3 separate regions of the Homo sapiens genome follow, and all the other regions are reported to be linked to region 1. Evidence: microRNA targets listed by miRTarBase, many of them from high-throughput screens and not tested one by one. Region 1 holds a microRNA gene; each other region holds the end of a gene's coding sequence.

What was found. Region 1 holds the annotated microRNA hsa-miR-30c-2-3p (CUGGGAGAAGGCUGUUUACUCU, at 1,706-1,727, shown strand). A microRNA usually pairs through its seed, bases 2 to 8, with sites in the 3' UTR of a target mRNA and lowers its output. Matches are read on the target gene's strand: a 7mer-m8 pairs with bases 2 to 8, a 7mer-A1 pairs with bases 2 to 7 and ends in A, and an 8mer does both.
Region 2: miRTarBase lists ZNF641 as a target of hsa-miR-30c-2-3p. Seed matches in the 3' UTR shown: 7mer-m8 at 1,973-1,979.
Region 3: the mRNA of MYH11 is a reported target of hsa-miR-30c-2-3p. Seed matches in the 3' UTR shown: 7mer-A1 at 2,863-2,869.

What each region holds. Positions count from the first base shown.
Region 1 is chr6:71,374,543-71,378,690 of GRCh38, reverse strand. MIR30C2 (microRNA 30c-2) reads left to right here and starts at 1,660; the gene lies at 1,660-1,731.
Region 2 is chr12:48,339,547-48,343,546 of GRCh38, reverse strand. It overlaps ZNF641 (zinc finger protein 641), which reads left to right. Exons shown (of 6, transcript NM_001172681.2): 6 at 1-4,000. The coding sequence ends at 574. Among named protein-coding and RNA genes, the nearest start is that of ZNF641, 9.4 kb to the left of the region's middle.
Region 3 is chr16:15,700,505-15,704,504 of GRCh38, forward strand. It overlaps MYH11 (myosin heavy chain 11), which reads right to left. Exons shown (of 41, transcript NM_002474.3): 41 at 2,631-3,619. The coding sequence ends at 3,487. All of the region lies in intron 8 of NDE1 (nudE neurodevelopment protein 1), which reads left to right. Among named protein-coding and RNA genes, the nearest start is that of NDE1, 52 kb to the left of the region's middle.

The sequences.
Region 1 (4,148 bases):
ATTACCCATGACTTCTCCATCTCCACAGTGCCTCTCCCCTCAGCTACTCACTCACTGAATTCTGCTGTTCTTCTTGTCTTTATAATTTCTCATATTCATTTTCTCTGTGTTCTTACTGCCTCTTCCCTAATTAAGGCTCCCATGCTCTCCCTTACACTACTGCAGTGATTCTTTTCCTGTTTTCCTTACCTGCCACCTTAAAGCTAGAGTAAATTCTCTAAAGTACTGACATGGTCATCCCACTTGCCTGCTTACTATCTTTCACTCGTACCCATCGTTTGGAGATAATGCCCAAACCCTTTAACCTGGCACATAAGGACTCCCATCTTTCCCTTGTGTCTCTCCCCTTACCCTTCACCCACATGCATCTTTGACTCCACCTCTGCTGAATTCTTAAAGGCCTCAGCATACATTACCTTTGTCTTTCTTTCTCTATTGGATGACTGTTCTTTCTGGTACACTTTAAGCTACACTATCTTCTTCACTGCCCACCCCTTCCAAATTCCCATTAGCACCATCTTCACCTAGCTAATTTTATTCAGGCTTCAAGACTCAGCCTGGCTATTAGCCAACTCAGAAGTGTCTTTTGACCCATCATAACACTTATAGTAATGGTGTATGTGTCTGTCTTGCAAATTAAGCTGTGTCCTTCTCGAAGGTAGGGATGATACCCTTCATTTCTCATCACCTAGAATTTAAAACATTGCTGATATATGGCAGGCAGTCACAATTGTTTGTTGAATGAATGAATGAATGAATGAAATGAGTAAGATCCTGTAACAGTTTGGAATTATATGCCACCTGGGTTTACAGTGTAGTCTCTTATCAGGTAGGTTTGTTCTGAGATGTATAGTAATGATGACTTTCTTCTTCGCCCAAGTATTTTGTGTACCTTAGACCAGTTTAGCAAATGAAGTCCAAGAACTATTTGAATAAGTCATTCTTAGAAAATAACTTTAGGAAGCAACTGACTCCATTCATGTGTATGCCTCTAATTGTAGGTTCACTTCTGTCCGAATATGAATTTTTAAAATAATTTTAGCATTATATTAGCAATTTGCAATATACCATTTTTATGCATGTAAAGTTGTATTCTAACATATTTACTTTTTGCTCATTTGATTAAATTTATTACTGTGTATCCCATCATTAAGGTAACTAATTTTCAGTAATTAAACTGTTGGTCTTCTGTTTAGCCATTATTCTCAGTTCTGTGCAGGAGTGAGCTGAAACAAAGTTGTATAGCCCAGAGAGTGAGAAGCTGCATTTCATGTCTCCCAACAGTCAGAAAGGGATTATGTACTGTTTAAGGAAGGAGTTTGGCGAATATTTTGAAACCCTTTTGGGAAAGCATAGAATATTGAAAATCCAAAATTAACCAAATCCGTGAGTGTGCAAGCTCAAAGCTAGAGACCTTAGGAATATCTTAGGATGTGCAAAACAGGAAGAAAACAAGAACTGAGCAGGCAGCACTAAGTAAGTGTCATATAGCCTCCCCACCCACCCTTCCAACCCTACTCCTAAAAGAGCCATAATTTAGTCCCAAGTATACTTTTCTGATCTTTTCCTGTGACATATTATGGTATCTTCAAATGGTACTGGGTTTCCTGAGGCTTGTGCTGCTGACTGCCAACCCCATCCTAGAGAGCACTGAGCGACAGATACTGTAAACATCCTACACTCTCAGCTGTGGAAAGTAAGAAAGCTGGGAGAAGGCTGTTTACTCTTTCTGCCTTGGAAGTCAACTAAAGAGAAATGGATTTTGAATATTTCTATGTCTTAGAATTGATCCTATCCCGTGTTTGTTTCTGAGGTCAACTGTAAAAGGAAAAAAGGTGAATTGACTAAGTCATCCAAAGAAATGTAAGATAATCTATAATATCAGTTATATTTGAACTGTTTCACTTAGTTTAAAAAGAAAAAAAAGATTACCAAATACCCAAGTGACAAAAGTTCTGGTTAACTTGTATGAGGCTACATTTTGTGGGTTGCTGCAGTCTGATCTGTAAAAGCAACACATTACCTATACGTTAAGCTAAACATTTCTCCTTTAACCTGAGAGCATTCCACACTGAAGTCTGCTTTTCTTGAAGCAAAAATTCTAGTGTCCTTGGACTTGCTATTTTATCAGGGATCAAAGGCACCTTGGAGCCCCATGCTTTAGGAATTGTAATGGCAAACAATAAGGTCTGCTCTTTAAAGCTAGAATATAGTTACACATTTCAGGAAAAAATAGAATTGTTGTTGGAGGACGGGAGAGGAAGGAAAATGTAGAGGTAAGGGATGGGATGCAAGAAGTTAATTTTAAGAAAAATCTACAGAACGAACTCATAAGTTCAGCCTTAACCAGAAAAACTCTTTCATGTAAATCGTTTAAATCAAAGGTCTATTAAACATCTAATCTAGAATGTAACTTACCTGAAATTTGAGTCCATTGCTGATTTATTTAAAATTATTATGAAATAAGCCTTCTTGTTAAAGAGAATATTTAAATAAGGCATATTTTTATATAACAAGCCCTTAAGAAGTTAAATAATTAACTTAATGCTTCTATTAAAAATTAAACAAATCTGAACAAAATTACTCTAGTCTTGGCATATCAGCATATATCAGTCATTTAAACTAAAAGACACTCTACTACTTTAGAAGTATTAGAGGAGCTTTTAATTTTACCTCCGCACTGACTGTAGAGCCTAATACAATAGGAGTAATTGTTTCATATGAGTTTATAGAAAAAAAGTTTAAATACAATGACTTTAGCATGTGATTTCAGGGAAGTATTTGAACAGGCTGGCCTTGAAGCAGTGGTAGACACTGTTGAAGTGCCAGCTTGATTGAGTCATTTACCTTTTTAGGTTTGCCTACAGGCTTAAGAAAACCCTCTTTGAAACAATGCTCTACAGTCTTCTCAAAGAAATAATTGTTATAGATGTTTGAAATTTTGCTTTCTGCTAGGAGAGGCAGATAATATGGGTAAGGGGAAAAGCAACTCTAAGCAGCAGAGAATGATGCATATGCTTTGCCATAGCATTTTATTATTCTGCCTAAATTAAAAGGGGGGACATTCAAATATTCCAGATCTAAATTTATGGTTAACTTTTAGTCATGAATGTAGGTGTTTCAAAGCTTATTGAAATACATGCTGAAATTCATTCATCATTCAAGAATTATTTATTGAGCATCTACTATGTGAACTTCTAGGCACAGGGGATATAGCAGAGAACAGAAACAAAGTCCTTTTTCTCATGGAACTTACAAGAAAATATATAATGTGTCAAAATATAAACATCTTGTGTATCTATGTAAAATATCTAATTTTATTCAATCTTTTTATTGCCTTGTCCTCCAAAACCAAGTGTATTTAAATATTCCAGAATATTTCTTTCATTGACTATGGAAAACTTTGATATAAAGCTATATAATTTTGGTTTTTGTTTAGTATTATTCTTCTAGATATGTTCTAGTTGTTAACTAGCCTGTTTTGTGACATGAGTAAGTAGGATTATTAAGCATGCTTGAGAAGTTATATATATATATTTATATATTTATATATTTATATATATTTATATATATTTATATATATATTTATATATATTTTTATATATATTTATATATATTTATATATATATTTATATATATTTATATATATTTATATATATATTTATATATATTTACATATATTTATATATTTACATATATTTATATATATTTATATATATTTATATATGTTTATATATATTTATATATGTATTTATATATATAAATATATATATGAGGGGGCTTCAAAATATTCATGGAAACATTGAGTTAAAAGCTACAAATAAAAAATATAAATTTTATTTCTCAGAGTAAGCTCCATCAGGGTCAAGACACTTTTGTAAGCAATGATACCAGACATTTATTCCATCCCTAAAGAACAGGGTCTTGGGAATTTCACCACATCAGTGCCATCTTTTTAACATTATTAACTGAAGAAAAATGAGTGCTCTGACAGATTTTTTTAAGATTAGGAAACAAAAGTCCAAATGAGCCAAATCAGGACAGTAAGGTGGATGCCTAGTGACATTCCACTGAAACTCTGGCAAAATTGCCCTTGTTTGATGAGAAGAATGAGCAGAAGCATTGTCATGGTGGAGAGGGAGTCTGGT
Region 2 (4,000 bases), not on the chromosome of region 1:
CTCAAACCTGCTGTGTAGCACAGAGATGGATTCCCTGTTAAGACCCCACACATGCCCCCAGTGTGGGAAACAGTTTGTATGGGGTTCCCACCTTGCCAGGCATCAACAAACACACACTGGGGAGAGACCCTACAGCTGCCTCAAGTGTGAGAAGACCTTTGGGCGAAGACATCACCTCATCAGGCACCAGAAAACCCACCTACATGACAAGACCAGCAGGTGCTCTGAGTGTGGTAAGAATTTCCGATGCAACTCCCATCTGGCCAGCCACCAGAGAGTGCATGCAGAAGGCAAATCCTGCAAAGGCCAAGAGGTTGGAGAGAGCCCTGGCACAAGGAAACGGCAGCGTGCCCCACCAGTGCCAAAGTGTCACGTGTGCACTGAATGTGGGAAGAGCTTTGGCCGAAGGCACCACCTTGTGAGACACTGGCTGACCCACACTGGGGAGAAGCCCTTCCAGTGCCCTCGCTGTGAGAAGAGCTTTGGCCGAAAACATCACCTGGACAGGCACCTGCTCACCCACCAGGGACAAAGTCCCCGGAACAGCTGGGACAGAGGAACATCTGTCTTTTGAAATCTGTTTCCACTACAGCTATGGTCAAGTCTATCAGCCGGTGCTACCAGGAGTCACTGCCAGGGCTGCCGTTCTCCTGAACCCCAGTGGCCAGAATCATAAGCCCTGACCCCATCCCTAGAAAGATGAGGTCCCAGCAATGGCCAGAGCATTTCTCACCAGTTCTGTGAGATAGCACATAAAAATAGAGTTCTTTGGGCAAAACTTTTGGGAAGCAATGCATCCTACATGGGCTGATATTCAGCCTGAGCTGTTCTCAAGAGGAGAGTGGTACTGGCAGTTTATGGCTGAAATCCATTCTGATTGGTTGGAGTCTATGCTATACCAGTTGTTAAACATTTTGAGTATCACTCTTGCATACTGTTACTATTATATTTTCTCTATATATAGACAGAAAGGCCATTTTAGAATATTAAAGGCTCTGAAAATTTCTGCAGTAGACCCAACTGAAGGTTCTATTAAGGCAGTGTTTCCTAAATGTATTTGACCTCAGTATCCTTTCTATTTACATCCCACAGAACTGGTGACTATGAAACACTCTGGTGAACACTGGGTTAGAGAGTAACAAGGAAACAAGAGATAGTGATCAGGCATCCAGAGCCCCCTTTTTTATCCATATGAAAGCCAGGGGGGCCAGACCTTGTTCATGTGTGGGTCTGTCTTCCTTATGCCAATCAGCAGTATATACATCACCTCTCACCCTCACCTGCTGAAAAAATAACCTTTTTACCCATTATTCCTACTCCCTTCATCCTGCACATACATATATCCAGCTGAGAGATCACACTACAAGGCTAAGAGATGATCTAATACCCCCAAATAGCCCTGGCCCACACAGAAAAACAGAAAAACAAAAAAAACTTTATCCCCTTGAACAGTCCCCTCTCTCCTCTTGACTGTCTTTATGTGTCTGTGTATTTGTGTGCAGGGTCTTTGAAGACAGCATGCTATGTGCAAACTGTACAAGCTAGGTTTTCTAGGGGCTGTGTTCTGGGGATGAGGGTAGTGGGGATTATATGGGGTTTTTTCTTTGTTTCAAGACAGGAAGCAGTCTGGTTAAGGGAGAACTAGTGGAAAGGGTTAAATGACAGGTTAAGTTGAGTACAAAGCTTTCCCAGTACTGCTGAGATTAAGACAATTGTGGATGTGTATGTCTAGGTTTGAATCTCTGGGCTGCAGATTGCTTTTGCCCTGGCAGAGAAAGAGGAGTCTTTGGGGAGGTGAGCTGTTTCTTGTTGATTTCAGGCAAGAGGCACATAGAAACTTTGTATTGAGTGGGGATTTTGTTTTAAGTGCTGGAAAATTAGGGCAGGAATTACGTGTTTGCAAGTTGTTGCCATCACTGGTTTGAATTTGACTGCCTCATCAAGGGGCAAGAGTTATTCTTGAAGATCTCATTCTCCCAGAAACAGAACTTTAGGGAAAATGGCTGTGGCTTAGCTTTTCAGCTGCTGCAGGGTAATAAGCTTTCTGGTTGGTTTTCCTTCCAATTCTGGAAAGGTGTCCACACTAAGACCCTTAACTCTAGGGCTTGCATAAGTATTCTAGCATCGTTAGCTAATGAGTTGGTCATTGTTTCTCTTTATCAATAATTGTGTTAATACCAATCTTATAATTTAAAAATTATCTTGTATGTAAGAGCAGTTCGGGGTTAGGGAGGAAGAGGAGCAAAGTGGGATATTTTCTCTTTAATGCTTAGATACTGTTTCTTCCCTAAGATGTGTTTCTCAACCACAATTGGTGGAATGAACCAGAGAGGCAAGAGGAAGTGAATTGCACCAATTTAGTTTAGCGACTGTGCCTTTTGCAGGAAAAACTGGGTGAATCACAGCTCCTCAGAGTCCTGGACTCAACTAGAATTGAAGATAGACTTATTTTGCTGACTGGGCTTCTTAGAGTTTATGTGACTTGAACAGCTTGGCCCCTGCCTCCCTTCTGCTACTGTGAGCAGCCTTCCTTCTTCCTTCATTCTTCCTGGAATGCAGTTCTCTTGCTTATGATCCTATGAATAAGGCAAAATGGCTGGTCTTTGTAAGGCAGGTCTTGCCCTAGCTTCTCAGAAACAGGAGCATTTTAGGATCAGTATTAGGAGATGCCCCAGGGAGTAAGAAAGTATTGGGTTCAGTGATAAATCTGGACTCTGACATTTCTTTTACTCTCCCTCTTTAATACTAAAAGCTCTGCATAAGCAATGGTTCAGAACCTGTCTTGGGTACAGACCTGTTGAATCTGACAGAAACCAGAAACGCACTTTTGAGAAAAAGACATTTGTAATTCACTCAGTTTTCCATACACATTTAGCAGGTTCAAAGCCCATCTGTGGAATCCCTAAACTGCCTTCAAAGAAAGGGAGTTCCCCGATCTAAAATGGTCATTATATATTTGTGTCAAGAATTAGAAGGCAAGGGTCACTAAATATTTTAAGGATTAAGGTACCAGAGGCATCAGTGGTATAAGGATGGAGTCTGGTCTTTAATTACGACAAGGGTATTGCTTACATTCTACTCTCTGGTTTTCAAAAAGATCTGACATGCTGACAAATCCAGCTCCTCACAAATCTTGTTTGAAGGACTTGTGGGAAGTGATATTCCTTACTATTAGATCACGCCCCTTATAACTACATGTTAACATCCAGCCTTTTATCTGTTTGAGTAATTGTAGGGATAGAAAGTGAAGCCCCCAGAGTTAGGTGCAAGTATAGCACCCAGCTGAAAGGCATCATGGAGTCTAAGGGCCTTCTACAGAAGGGGCAATCCTTTGGGTTATTTCTGGTGTACCACTGTCTTCTCTACCTCGGTCCAACACCACCTCTCTTGGACAAAAAATAAAACAAGCAACAGCCATCAGATGAGTGAATAGATTTGAATGATTTTTCCCACAGGGAATCAGCCTCAAATGTTCATGTTTCACCCCGTCCCCTTTAAATAAAAAGAATCTCTGTGTTCTCTTTGGGCAAAATGTAAAACAGGGATATCATCTTCAGGAACCTGTCACATTTTTCCATCTGGTACCTCCACCCTATTCTGAGTATCCTCCCCTTTCCACCCCAACATAGTATCTTTCAAAGAATCCCTTGCATAGGAGACTGTAACCGAAAGTGTTAGCTTTTCACCAGGCTATTTACACTTTACGCCTTAGTTCTAATTGTGGAAGGAAAAACTTTTCCCTTGTCAAAGTAATGTTATGGCTTCAGAGAACCAAAGAGGTGATAATTTGGGACAAAATTCCTCCCTTTCCAACATTCCTGCAATCAAATCACTGTTTCCTATTTCCATCAAGGGCAGGTCCTGACTCAGACCTACAAAGGCCAGAAGGCCAGTTCTTTCCATCTCTGAATTAGGATGCATGCACTGAATGGGAGTGGGTGGGGCTGGGCAATATCAGAAAAGTGAAATCCATTCCTTTAGATCCTTAGAGAGCCTGAGC
Region 3 (4,000 bases), not on the chromosome of region 1:
GTAGTGGTGCAATTTCGGCTCACCGCAGCCTCCGCCTCCTAGGTTCAAGCGATTCTCTTATCTCAGCTTCCCAAGTAGCTGGGACTACAGGAGTGTGCCACTACACCCACTAATTTTGTATTTTTAGTGAGAAACGGGGTTTCACCATGTTGGCCATGCTGGTCTTGAACTCCCGGCCTCAAGTGATCCTCCCGCCTCAGCCTCCCAGAGTGCTGGAATTACAGGCCTGAGCCACCGTGCCTGGCCCCTGATTGGTCTTGACAGGTGTTTTTAATGTCCCAAGTCTCCGTAAATGTGGGATGGAGCTTCTCTCAGAGGCTCTTCCCCCCAACTCCCAACCAGGTGGAATCGTCTTCCAGAACAAAATCTCCCAGTGCTTTGTGGTGTACTGAAATCATGTCTAAGAACAGAGAACTTAACAGTCACATGCCTTTTTAAAAACTGGAATAGGCTGGGCGCGGTGGCTCAGGCCGGTAATCCTAAGACTTTGGAAGGCCGAGGCGGGTGGATTACCTGAGGTCAGGAGTTCAAGACCAGCCTGGCCAACATGGTGAAACCCCATCTCTACTAAAAATACAAAAAATTAGCTGGGTGCAGTGGTGCGTGCCTATAATTCCAGCTACTCCAGATGTTGAGGCAGGAGAGTTGCTTGGACCCGGGAGGTGGAGGGTGCAGTGAGCCAAGATTGCGCTACTGTACTCCAGCCTGGGCAACAGAGTGAGACTCCGTCTCCAAAAAAAAAAAAAAAGGTGTCATAAACCTCTGAGACTGTAGCCTGCTTCTTAGCTTCTCATTGAGATTCCTAGAGGTGCGTTCGAGTTTTCAGAGTAATTTTCCAGACCAACCAGCGTCAGTGGGAAATCTGACCTCTTTTGGCAAACTGCGATCATTCATTTTCCTGAGTCCCCTGGTGGGGTGGGGGGAATTCTGCCTCAGGACCCTGAGGGGTCTTTGGGGCAAGATGGCCTTGGTAATGCAGCCACTAAGAACAGGACTTCATTCAAAGGCATAATGAAGTAACCAGGGTGACCATCAAGTAAAATTAAAGCACAAGATCATTGTAGGAGGCTTCCTTGTCAAAGACGTGAACGTGGGATTTCCAACGCACCATGGTGTGTCCACTCATCACTGCATGTTAGGAACTGCTGTCTCTTTGGGACACGAGTTAAAAGAACACACTAATTTCTGGAGTGTGCCTGCAGCTTCACGGCCTTCATTTTGTTACTAAGTTATTTTCTGGAAGAACAGCAAAAATTTCAGGTTGAAAACAGAACTTTCCAAGTGCTACTGAAATTCCGCAGAGAATTACGCTGCGATGGTGGGTTTCTTACCCTAGAAACATCCTAACCTGTATCCACAGAAGATGTCCTTTTATTTTTTTAAAAGATCAATAAAATCAAGAGAAACGAATGTTGAACTTGTTGGGCTTCTGGTCAAAGAGGCTTTGTATGTTTATACTTTAATGTTTTCCCACAGAGTGGTGAAAAACTTTTTTTAACCAAGTTAAAAAATATGAAAAAATCTTTTTGAAAATTTCTATTCAAGCCAGGTTTTTAGAAATGTATCCGGGATGTGTTTGTGCGTCATTCAAGGCATATTAGCATCTGGTCACAAGATGGAGTCCTTTGTTTCCATGTTTCCTGTCTCCCAAATCTGTCTGATCCCATGGAGTTGGTGGTATACGGCATCGTTTGTGTTGAACAGAGCCTTTGCAGGCATGTCTGTCTAAAACACTCAAGCTGAAAGAAGGACAGGGCCTACAGCTTGTTTTTATGGCCCTTACTCTAAGAATGATTTATTATGTTTTTAAGGGTTGTTTTAAAGAAGATGAATATTCGGCAAGACCATATGTAGCCTGTAAAGGCTAAAATACTATCTGGCTGGGTGGGTGGTGGTGGTGGTGTGAGAGACAAGGTGTTACTGTTACCTAGGCTGCAGTGCAGTGGCGTGATCATAGCTCACTGCAGCCTGGAACTCCTGGCTCACATGATCCTCCTGCCTTAGCCTTCCAAGAGGTTGGGAGTACAGGTGTGCACTATCCTGCCTGGCTTACTAACAACAACAACAAAAAAACACCTTTTTTTTATAGAGACGGGGGTCTCTCTCGGCTAGGCTGGCCTCCAACTCCTGGCCTCAAGTGATTTTCCCATCTCAGCCTCCCAAAGTGCTGGGATTCCAGGTGTGAGCCACTGTACCCAGCCACCATCTGACGTTTTGTGGAAAGTGTTTGCTGACTCATTGGACAAGACCTTGTGTTTTAACTCAAAAAATCAAGGAAATCCTGTATTTTTCTTAAGATACTGGTTTTGATGAGTCAAGATGTTCTTCCCAGTCATGTTCGAGGGCAGGGGGCAGTGGCCCTTAGACCACACATCACCTTATTTCTCTCCCCTGCCCTCCCTGCTGAGCGGCCCAGTAACCCCCTTAGACAGTCTCACTTTGCATCTCTGCTCTGCTCTCTGGCTGGCTGTGGGGTTGTAGGCAATTGATTTCACCTCTCTAGGCCTCAGTTTCTGCATTCATGACGTTAACCCTGACTTCAGAGAATCTTTGGGACGATGAAGCAAAACCCAGCCTTCCCCAACTCCTTTTCCTCTATAGAAAACAGCTCAACAGAAAAGCCAACGACATTGTGATTTATAACCATTTATTAGTGAAAGTGTTTTTAAGCACAGTCAGGGTGTAAACAGTGCAGCATTCCTGCTCCCCTCCGTGGGAGCAGCGTCTCCTTTTCAATTCATGTGACTACAGAAGGCACTTGGTGAACTGTGCGTGTCTGAGGTGTGGAAACCAGGAGAGGGGGAAAGAATTCTCAAAGGCCTGACGTGAGAAGTTGGAAAGGTTTGCAGGTTAGGGAATGAATTGGGAGTGGGGGCCGGCGGCACCCATTTCGGTGACTTTCTCCCCATTTCATGTAAACAGAATTGCCAGGGACCGGTTACCGTGGATATGTTTTTCTAAAAACTCAGTGTCTGCACAATCCATTGATAGAACTGGAGGATGTGTCTGTGTTTCCTGTTGGGTTTTTCTCATCTCTTACATCATACAAACTTCAATTTTTACCTTGAATACAGGGGTAGTAGGGGTGGTGGTGGTGGTGGTGGTTGAGACAGGGTCTCTGTTGCCCAGGCTGGAGTGCAATGATGCAATTATAGCTCATTGCAGCCTCGAAGTCCTGGGCTGGAGCGTTCTTCCTGGCTCAGCCTCCCTAGTAGCTGGGACCACAGGTGTGTACCACCACGCCCAGCTTATTTTTAAATTCTTGTATAGATGAGGTTTTACTACGTTGCCCAGGCTGGAGGGTGGTGGTTTTTATATTCCTTGTGTGAGGGGTGTCTGTGATATTTGGAATTTGAGAATGGATTTAGACAATGCTAAGTACAGTCTGCTGGGTTTTGCTTTGTTCTGGGTTGTTGTTGGGTTTTTTTTGTTTGTTTGTTTTGGTTTTTGGTTTTCTTGCCGTGGTGCAAAACTGTAGAAAGTTGCTTATTCACTGGCCTTGGTTCCATTGAAGTCTGCGTCTCGAGTGTCCGTTTCCTCCTCAGAACCATCTGCATTTTCAATAACTCTACGTCCTCCAGACCTTCTAGAAGGAACGAAAGAGGTCTCGTTTCCTCGCCTGTGGGTTGTAAGAAAACACATTATTTAGCAAAGAAATCTTCATGGTTGGGATAGATTTTTTATAAATCTATTTTAAACTTGTAGCTATAGTCCTATTGCAATATAAATTTTTTTTATGGCAGAAAACACACACGGCACAAATAAGATGCAGATATTCAAGTTGAAGTCAACAAATCATTGCCAGTCTTAAGGCATGAGTGATTGAATTTAATCAGCTGAAATTGGTTGCGGGGGTGGGTGGAGAAGGTTTTTCAAAGCAAGACGATCTGCTTTTCAATATGTCAGGCTTGGTCATTTGAGAAGCCACAGGATTCTGGTCTGCTGTGGTCTTTGATTTAGAATAGGAAAAAAACGCCAAAAACCAAGCAGGGGATTTTGT